Linked DNA regions of Homo sapiens. The protein of the gene in region 1 interacts with the protein of each later gene in a biochemical or structural test. Each region holds a gene or a part of one and is shown on either strand. Other genes may lie near its edges.

The links.
Region 2: the proteins of PPP1R14C (region 1) and CNKSR1 form a complex in vitro, tested with the Homo sapiens proteins (one large-scale study listed by BioGRID).

Annotation. Positions count from the first base shown.
Region 1 is NC_000006.12:150,149,482-150,153,291, reverse strand, and holds part of PPP1R14C (protein phosphatase 1 regulatory subunit 14C), read right to left. Parts: intron 1-3,810. UniProt on the Homo sapiens protein: Inhibitor of the PP1 regulatory subunit PPP1CA.
Region 2 is NC_000001.11:26,183,681-26,187,490, reverse strand, and holds part of CNKSR1 (connector enhancer of kinase suppressor of ras 1), read right to left. Parts: intron 3,763-3,810; coding exon 3,661-3,762; intron 3,421-3,660; coding exon 3,350-3,420; intron 3,278-3,349; coding exon 3,204-3,277; intron 3,091-3,203; coding exon 2,984-3,090; intron 2,907-2,983; coding exon 2,879-2,906; intron 2,478-2,878; coding exon 2,305-2,477; intron 324-2,304; coding exon 250-323; intron 81-249; coding exon 9-80; intron 1-8. UniProt on the Homo sapiens protein: May function as an adapter protein or regulator of Ras signaling pathways.

The DNA.
Region 1 (3,810 bases):
AAGAGCAGGTTTTCAATACAGGCAGAGCCAAATTATATTCATATGCTTAATTTTGGGAACACATTTCTGAAATGCACATCATGTAACCAGAAGATGCAGCCACTGTCACTCACTGACAGTCAAATAAATAGCACAGACTGAGTGGCTCAACAACAAGCATTTCTGTCTCACAGTTCTAGAGGCTGGAGGTCTGAGATCAGGGTGCCAGCATCCTCCTCCTGGTCTACAGGTGGCCGTCTTCCATCTTCTTGCTGTGCTTTCACGCTGTGCCCTTGCATGGCAGTGAGAGCGAGCTCTGGCCCCTTCCTCCCCTTTTAAGGGCATTAATCACATCACAGGACCTCCACCCTCACGACCTCACCTAACACTAATGACCTCCACGAAGTCCTCCCTCCAAATACCATCACTCTGGGGACTAGCGTTTCAACCTATGAATCTGGGGAGACACAAACATTCAGTCCATAGCAGAGACACCCAAGTGCAGCCAGGTGTGTGAGAGTCACCAGGGCTGCAAAGGTACAAGATTCTGCCTTCAGGAGGCTGCAGTGAGGGTGGGAGACAGGATTACAGAAAGAGGGACCCTGGAAAGGCCACAGAGCCAGCCTGACAGCAGGAGATGGATCAGAGAAGCTCCTGGGAAGGCACTGCCAAGTACCAGGCTAAGAACAGGTGCAAGCTAGACAGCTAGGGAGTGGGGGCAGGGGAGGGGGTGGAGGTGATTATGGCAGAGGGGCTCCTGCTGAGCTGCCTTAGGGACTCAGCTGATAGCTGAAACAGCAGGGCTGGGGGTGCCTAGAGACAAGTCCAGAGACTGGGGCAGGGAAACCCCTGAGCCCTGGTCACGTGCTAAGGGGCTCCTGCTTTATCCTGAAGGCTGTGCGGAACAAGATCCCACCTGGATTTTAGAAAACACACTAGCTGCAGCCCATGGAGGTGGCTCTGAAGCACCGTGGGGAGCTGGAGCAGGGACAGAGCGGGAGGCCCAACCCAGGAACCAGAGACCCTGCCACCTGCCCGCCATGTGGCCTCTGACGGAGGCCTGCAGCTCAAACTCCCTGTACTTCAGTTTCTTCACCTACCTTGCAGAGTTACTGCGAGGATTAAATTAGCACCCATGAAGGACAAGGTTTGCAATCAGCACTTCTTTTTTTTTTTTTTTTTTTTTTTTTTTTGAGACGGAGTCTCGCTCTGTCGCCCAGGCTGGAGTGCATTGGCGGGATCTCGGCTCACTGCAAGCTCCGCCTCCCGGGTTCACGCCCTTCTCCTGCCTCAGCCTCCCAAGTAGCTGGGACTACAGGCGCCCGCCACTACGCCCGGCTAATTTTTTGTATTTTTAGTAGAGACGGGGTTTCACCTTTTTAGCCGGGATGGTCTCGATCTCCTGACCTCGTGATCCGCCCGCCTCAGCCTCCCAAAGTGCTGGGATTACAGGCGTGAGCCACCGCGCCCGGCCGCAATCAGCACTTCTTAAATGGAGCTACTGGGAGCAATGGGAGCATCATAGCTAAGTGACTTTGGAATCAGTGTGAACTTGGACAAGGACAAGGGACAACTTCTCAGATCTCAGCTGCTTTCTCCAAAAAATGAAGAAATGAAGATAACACCATCTCCTTCATAAAGTTGTTGGGAGGATTGATGGTATGAGGTAAGATGCATAAATCTCCTGGCTGTCACCTGAGAGCTGGGTTAGTCCCAGCAGTAGTAGAAACAATAGCAGCAGTGGTGGAGGGTGCAGTAGCAGAAAGAGTGGTTGCCGTAATTTGAAAGAAACTGGACTACAGTGACCATTGCTATTATACAGGTGAGAAGTTACAAGGAGCTGGATTAAGGCAGTGGCAGGGACCAGTGGGGACTCATATTCCAGAGCTGTAGGAGCATCAACAAGACTTTGTGACTCCTGGGTGTGACAGCAAGGAGGAGGCAAGAGATAAGCATGCCACGTAATCTTGGGCTGGGACAACTGTGCACAGCAGCGCCTGCCGCCCACTGAGGGAAGTGAGGAAGAGGAGCAGGTTTCCTAAGGAAGATGAGAAACTCATTTTCAGACCAGTTGAATATGAGGTTTCTCTGGGGTACTAAGTGGCACTGTCCATTTCAAAGTTGTCTGAATACATCTGGCACTCAGAAAACAGATCAGGGCTAAAAATACAGAGTCACACGTTGTCCGCATATGGACAGCAATTAAAGCCACAGGAAGGGTCTTATCATCCAAAAACAGCACGCAGGAGTGAAGGAAAAAAAAACAAAACAAAACAAACAACAAAAAAAACAGAGAGCCAGGGCCCGAAGACAGAGAAATGTCATCACTGAAGAGCAGGCAAAAGAGGAAAAACCCAGAAAGGGAAGGAGAAAGACGGAGCGGCATGTGCGGTGGGGGAATACAGGGCGGAGGAGGGGAAGGTATTTGTGTGGTAGTGGGGGATGGTGGTGGTTTAAACAGAAGAGAGAGACTTCAACTTGTGTATATGCTGAAATGAATGGGCCAGAGAGGTTGAAAACTCAGCCAAGAAAGGGGTGTCGTGAATGAAGTGCCTGGAGGGTGGCTGGTCTAGCTTGCAGAGGAGGAGACTGGGAGGGCAGAGAACAGAAGAGGTGCCTTGAAAAGACAGGTGAAGGCTTGAACTAGCCCAGTGCAGGAAACAAGAGCAAGAGCATGCACTACAAAGTAAACCATGTGGCCAAAGCATGTGCCACATGGAAAATAAAATTCAGATTTGATTCTTCCCTCCATCTAGAAAGAGACTTCTTGACAGAGAGCTGTGGGCTAGGCGAGGGAGACCAGGGGCTGCCAGGTTGTTTTAGGCTGAGAGGAAAAGGACAAACAGAAGACAGCAAAAGCAAACATGTACCCACAGAGATGAGAACAGCAGGCAGAACTAGTGTAGCAGGGGCACGTTAGGAGCAAAGGAAAAGACAGTGGGTGGGACTCAGGGAAGATCACATTTGCAAAAGAATTCTGTCAACCTAAACTTCAAAGTCAATTGGCTACCATTACCACCTTTCAGTTCCTGTTTGGAGCAAGTAAGTCAATGAAGAAAGGTGTATTTTCCAACAGCACTGACATAAAGCTGTAAGGATGCAAGAATGTGATATGACTACAGTAACAAAAACACAGATTGACTTTTGCCCTCGCCATGTCTATGATAAAGGAATATCACCAATTAGTTCAGATACAGAAACATCAATGACTTTTAAACATTTGCTGAACATTGATCCTTTTTCATTCATTCAAGCAAATGCTTAAATGTTGAAGAATTGTGTCCCGCTATGAACTTTTAAATGATGAAAATTAAGACAGTTCCTTGCCTTCAAGTTGTTACAGTCTAACTTCCCTGCACATATGTAAAAATCCACCAAAACATAGAGAATGAGGAAGGCTCTAGAAACAGGAGGAACAGTTTAGAGAATATTTGCCCATGTTCAAGTTCAAACATACACCAACACCCCTGACCCTAAAGTAACCCTATACTCTTCTCCAAATTATTGCACCAAATAGATGTGAATACCTTGTTTTCTTCACCCCTTTCCTCTGTCTCCATCATAGAGAATAACCAACAGTTAGTGGCAGCTTGTGGCTCCAATAACAACACTGACATGCTATGTCCTAAGTACTATGCTTGGTGTCTCACCAATCAGTCCTCCTGACAGCCCTGCAAAGGCACCAGGATGATTTCCTTCAACATACAGAGAAAGTAGCCGGGCGCAGTGGCTCACACCTGTAATCCCAACACTTTGGAAGGCTGAGGCTGACGGATCACTTAAGCCCAGGAATTCGAGACCAGCCTGGCCAACACAGTGAAACCTTGTCTC
Region 2 (3,810 bases), on another chromosome or scaffold:
GCACTCACATGCTCAGATCTGTCAGGGTATCAGCAGCGAAGATGAAGGGTTTGTACACATCATGGGTGAGCTGAAACACACTGCCAGGTAGTGGAGGAGCATCACTCAGCCTGGGCGTGCCCACCCACAGCCCAGAGAGGCTGGATTCTGGGCGCCCCAGCCACTTGCCACACCTCCCACTGCTACCCCATCACCCTTCCTCTCCCTTTCTGTCTCCATCCCCCAGCCCATCACACCCCAAGACTTAACTATTTCTTCTTCTGATCATGTCCACTTTCCAGACTATAGTTGGAGACATTGATGAGGCCCTCAGCCTTCTCATCCTGGGGGGATCACAGCATGAGGGTCAGGTTGGAACCCCAATACCCTCAAGGCCCAGTCAGCTCCTAGTTACCCCTCGGGCTCCTGAGAGTTGTGGAGAGGAGAAGGCATCTCCTGGGCTCTCTAACAAGTCTCTCTGTTTCTGGAGCTCAGGGCTGGAATCTGGGGTCAGGGTAGGAGATGTGGCCAAAGGATGCCTCTAAGCCAGGAAAGGGGAGCCAAAGATATCAGAGAAACAGCCAAAAAAAAAAAAAAGAGGAGCCTGAAGGCCGGGCATGGTGGCTCATGCCTGTAATCCCAGCACTTTGGGAGGCCAAGGCAGGAGGACCATTTGAGCCTAGGAGTTTGAGACCAGACTGGGAAAAAAGCCCATTTCTACAAAAAATTAAAAACTTAGGTCGGGTGTGGTGGCTCACACCTGTAATCCCAGCACTTTGGGAGGCTGAGGCGGGCAGATCATGAGGTCAGGAGTTCGAGACCAGCCTGGCCAACATGGTGAAACCCCATCTCTACTAAAAATACAAAAAATTAGCCAGGCATGGTGGCAGGTGCCTGTAATCCCAGCTACTCGGGAGGCTGAAGTAGGAGAATTGCTCGAACCTGGGAGGAAAAGGTTGCCATGAGCTGCGATTGCGCCACTGCACTCCAGCCTGGGCAACAGAGCGAGACTGCGTCTCAAACAAAACAAAACAAACAAAAAACTTAGCTAGGCATGGTGGCATGTGCCTGTAGTCCCAGCTACTCAGGAGGCTGAGGCAGGAGGATCGCTTGAACCTGGGAGGCTGAGGCTGTAGTGAGCTGAGATCATGCCACTGCCCTCCAGCCTGGGTGACAAAGCAAGACTCTGTCTCAAAAACAAAAACCAAAAAACCAAACAAGAAGAGCTTGCTCATGCATTTGTTCCTTCAGTAGACACAAACCAAACTGCTTCACACCCCTGAGCTTTCTGAATGCTGCTTTCTCTTCCTGGTTTTCTTTCCCCTTCCCATGCAACTAACTGCCAGGTATTGCATTGTCAGGGGGCATCTGGACTCCTCAGGATGGACTGGACACCTCTGCTGTGCTCCCACATATCCCTTGGGCTTTCCCTTTATCTTAGCACACGGTCCCTACATTGTCCTTGAGTGTGTATTCATCCCTCTCCCCTACTAGCCTCTAAGTTCTGGAGAAGCAAAAATCATCCAATTCTTCTCTGTGTCCATAGTGCCCAGCCTAGAGCTGGGTTCACAGTAGGCACCTGAATCCTGAATGAATAAATGAGTAAATGAATGGCCCATCATTCGGATGGACAGAATATCAGAAGGATAAGGAGAAGTGGGCAGAATAGACGTGATTTTTCGGCCAGATGTGGTGGCTCACGCCTATAATCCCAGCATTCTGGCGGGCTGAAGCAGGCAGAACGCTTGAGCCCAGGAGTTTGAGACAAGGCTGGGCAACATAGCAAGACTCCATCTTGCTATGTTGCCCAGATTTTTCAGGGCCGGGTGTGGTGGCTCACGCCTGTAATCCCAGCACTTTGGGAGGCCGAGGCAGGTGGATCACGAGGTCAGGAGATCGAGACCATCCTGGCTAACACGGTGAAACCCTGTCTCTACTAAAAACACAAAAAATATGCTGGGCGTTGTGGCGGGCGCCTGTAGTTCCAGCTGCTCGGGAGGCTGAGGCAGGAGAATGGCGTGAACCCGGAAGGTAGAGCTTGCAGTGAGCCGAGATGATGCCACTGCACTCCGGCCTGGGCAACAGAGTGAGACTTTGTCTCCAAAAAAAAAAAAAAAAAGATTTTTCTCTATACCTCCTATGATACCTTTTCCAAACTGCTTTTATACATATATTAACTCATTTCTCTCTGAATAAAGTCCCCATTTTACAGATGGGGACATCAAAGCCTTGGACCAGGAATAAGAGTGGATGATAGAATAGAGATGAGAATCGAGGCCTGGAAGTGACTCACTTGCCTACCTGTTTTTGTGTATGGGGTCTTACCTGGGGCTGGCGGTACCAGTAGAGCGTGTGTCCCTTGAGCACAAACCAGCGGCGGCGCCAGCGCGGGCCCATGAAGCCGCCCGGTGCCTTTCGCAACAGGAGCCAGCCGTCACAGTCCGGCCGGCCCAGCTCACGGCATGACACCCGCCGGCGGCTCAGCCGGGTCGCCAGGCCTGTAGCAGCACAGCACAAGCTGGGCAGTGAGGGGCTGGCAAGGTGCCCCCGCTAAACCTACTCCCTGCCTTCCACAAGCATCCCCAAGTGAGATCTCTGAACCCACACTCTGCTCAGAATGCTACATGTGTCATCTCTGAGGTGGGATGACCCTTCTTATTTTAGAGATGAGCAAACTGAAGACTAGAGGCTAACCTGTTTGCTCAGTCACAGCAAACAGGTTAGCCTCTAGTCTGGTGAGAGGCCCAGACTGGGAGCACAGCTCTGTCTGACCCTAGAAACAGAGCTGTTTCCAGGAGAGGCTGTGTGGGAAGGATGGGGGTGGTCTTGCCCAGCATGTAAAGATTTTTAACAGCTCCTCAAACAGGGGAACCCCCACCTAGTCCAGCGCACCTCATACCTTTTGATTTCTTCCGACCAACAGGACTCTGAAAGGACAGCAGAAGGGTGAGAGAAGGATCTAGGTCCAGACCCACCCACCCCCTTGCTAAGCCCCTGAGCTTACCTTGTCAGGGGATTCAGGGAGCCCTGGAGTCCCTGCTACCCCTGCTGGGAGTATGGCTGGGGGTTCCGGGGGGATGGGCAGGGGCTCAGGGCCAAGGGAGGCAGAGTCTGTCAGGGAGGGAGGAGAGAGAGGGAAAGTCTATGAGCCCAGTCCCAGGCTTGGGGTCAGAACTGGGTGCCCAGATGCCGTGTCCGGGGCATCCATGGAGCTTTGAGACTACCTGTCCAGGCAGGGCTGGGTCCGGGACTGGGGTTTGAAGACAGGTCAAAGGCAAAGACGTCTTCAGATGGGGCCCTGGGGAGGGCAAGGGGGATGAGATGAGCCCACGGTCTCCCCACCAAGACACACCTGGACAGAGCCTGTTACCTGGGAGACAGTGGGGCCAGAGACAGTGATGGGCTCCTCTGGTGCGGGGAGTCCAGGACCTGAGGGGGCGTCTGGGGAACAACCAGGAACAAAGCAATGGAGACAGGGGTCTGAAAGCAGGTTGGGGGGCAACAGGGGTAGGGGAGCAGCAGGAGCAGGTACCTGTGGGGGGGTCTGAAGGGAGCTAGGGGGGCGCAGCAGGGGAAGGTGCCTGTTGGGGGGGGTCTGAAGGCAGGTGTGGGGGTGGTGGGGGCAGGTACCTGTGGAGGGGGGGGTCTGAAGGCAGGTCGGGGGGCGGCAGGGGAAGGTACCTGTGGGGGGGTCTCCGGTATCGGGATCTTCTTCAGCACTAAGCTGAGTCCGGCTGGCTCCCGCAGCAGTTCCCTCACCATGTTCTTACGGGGCCATCCCACCTGGGGGACAGAAACACTGGCTGGTATCAACCTGGGCAGGAGGCTCTA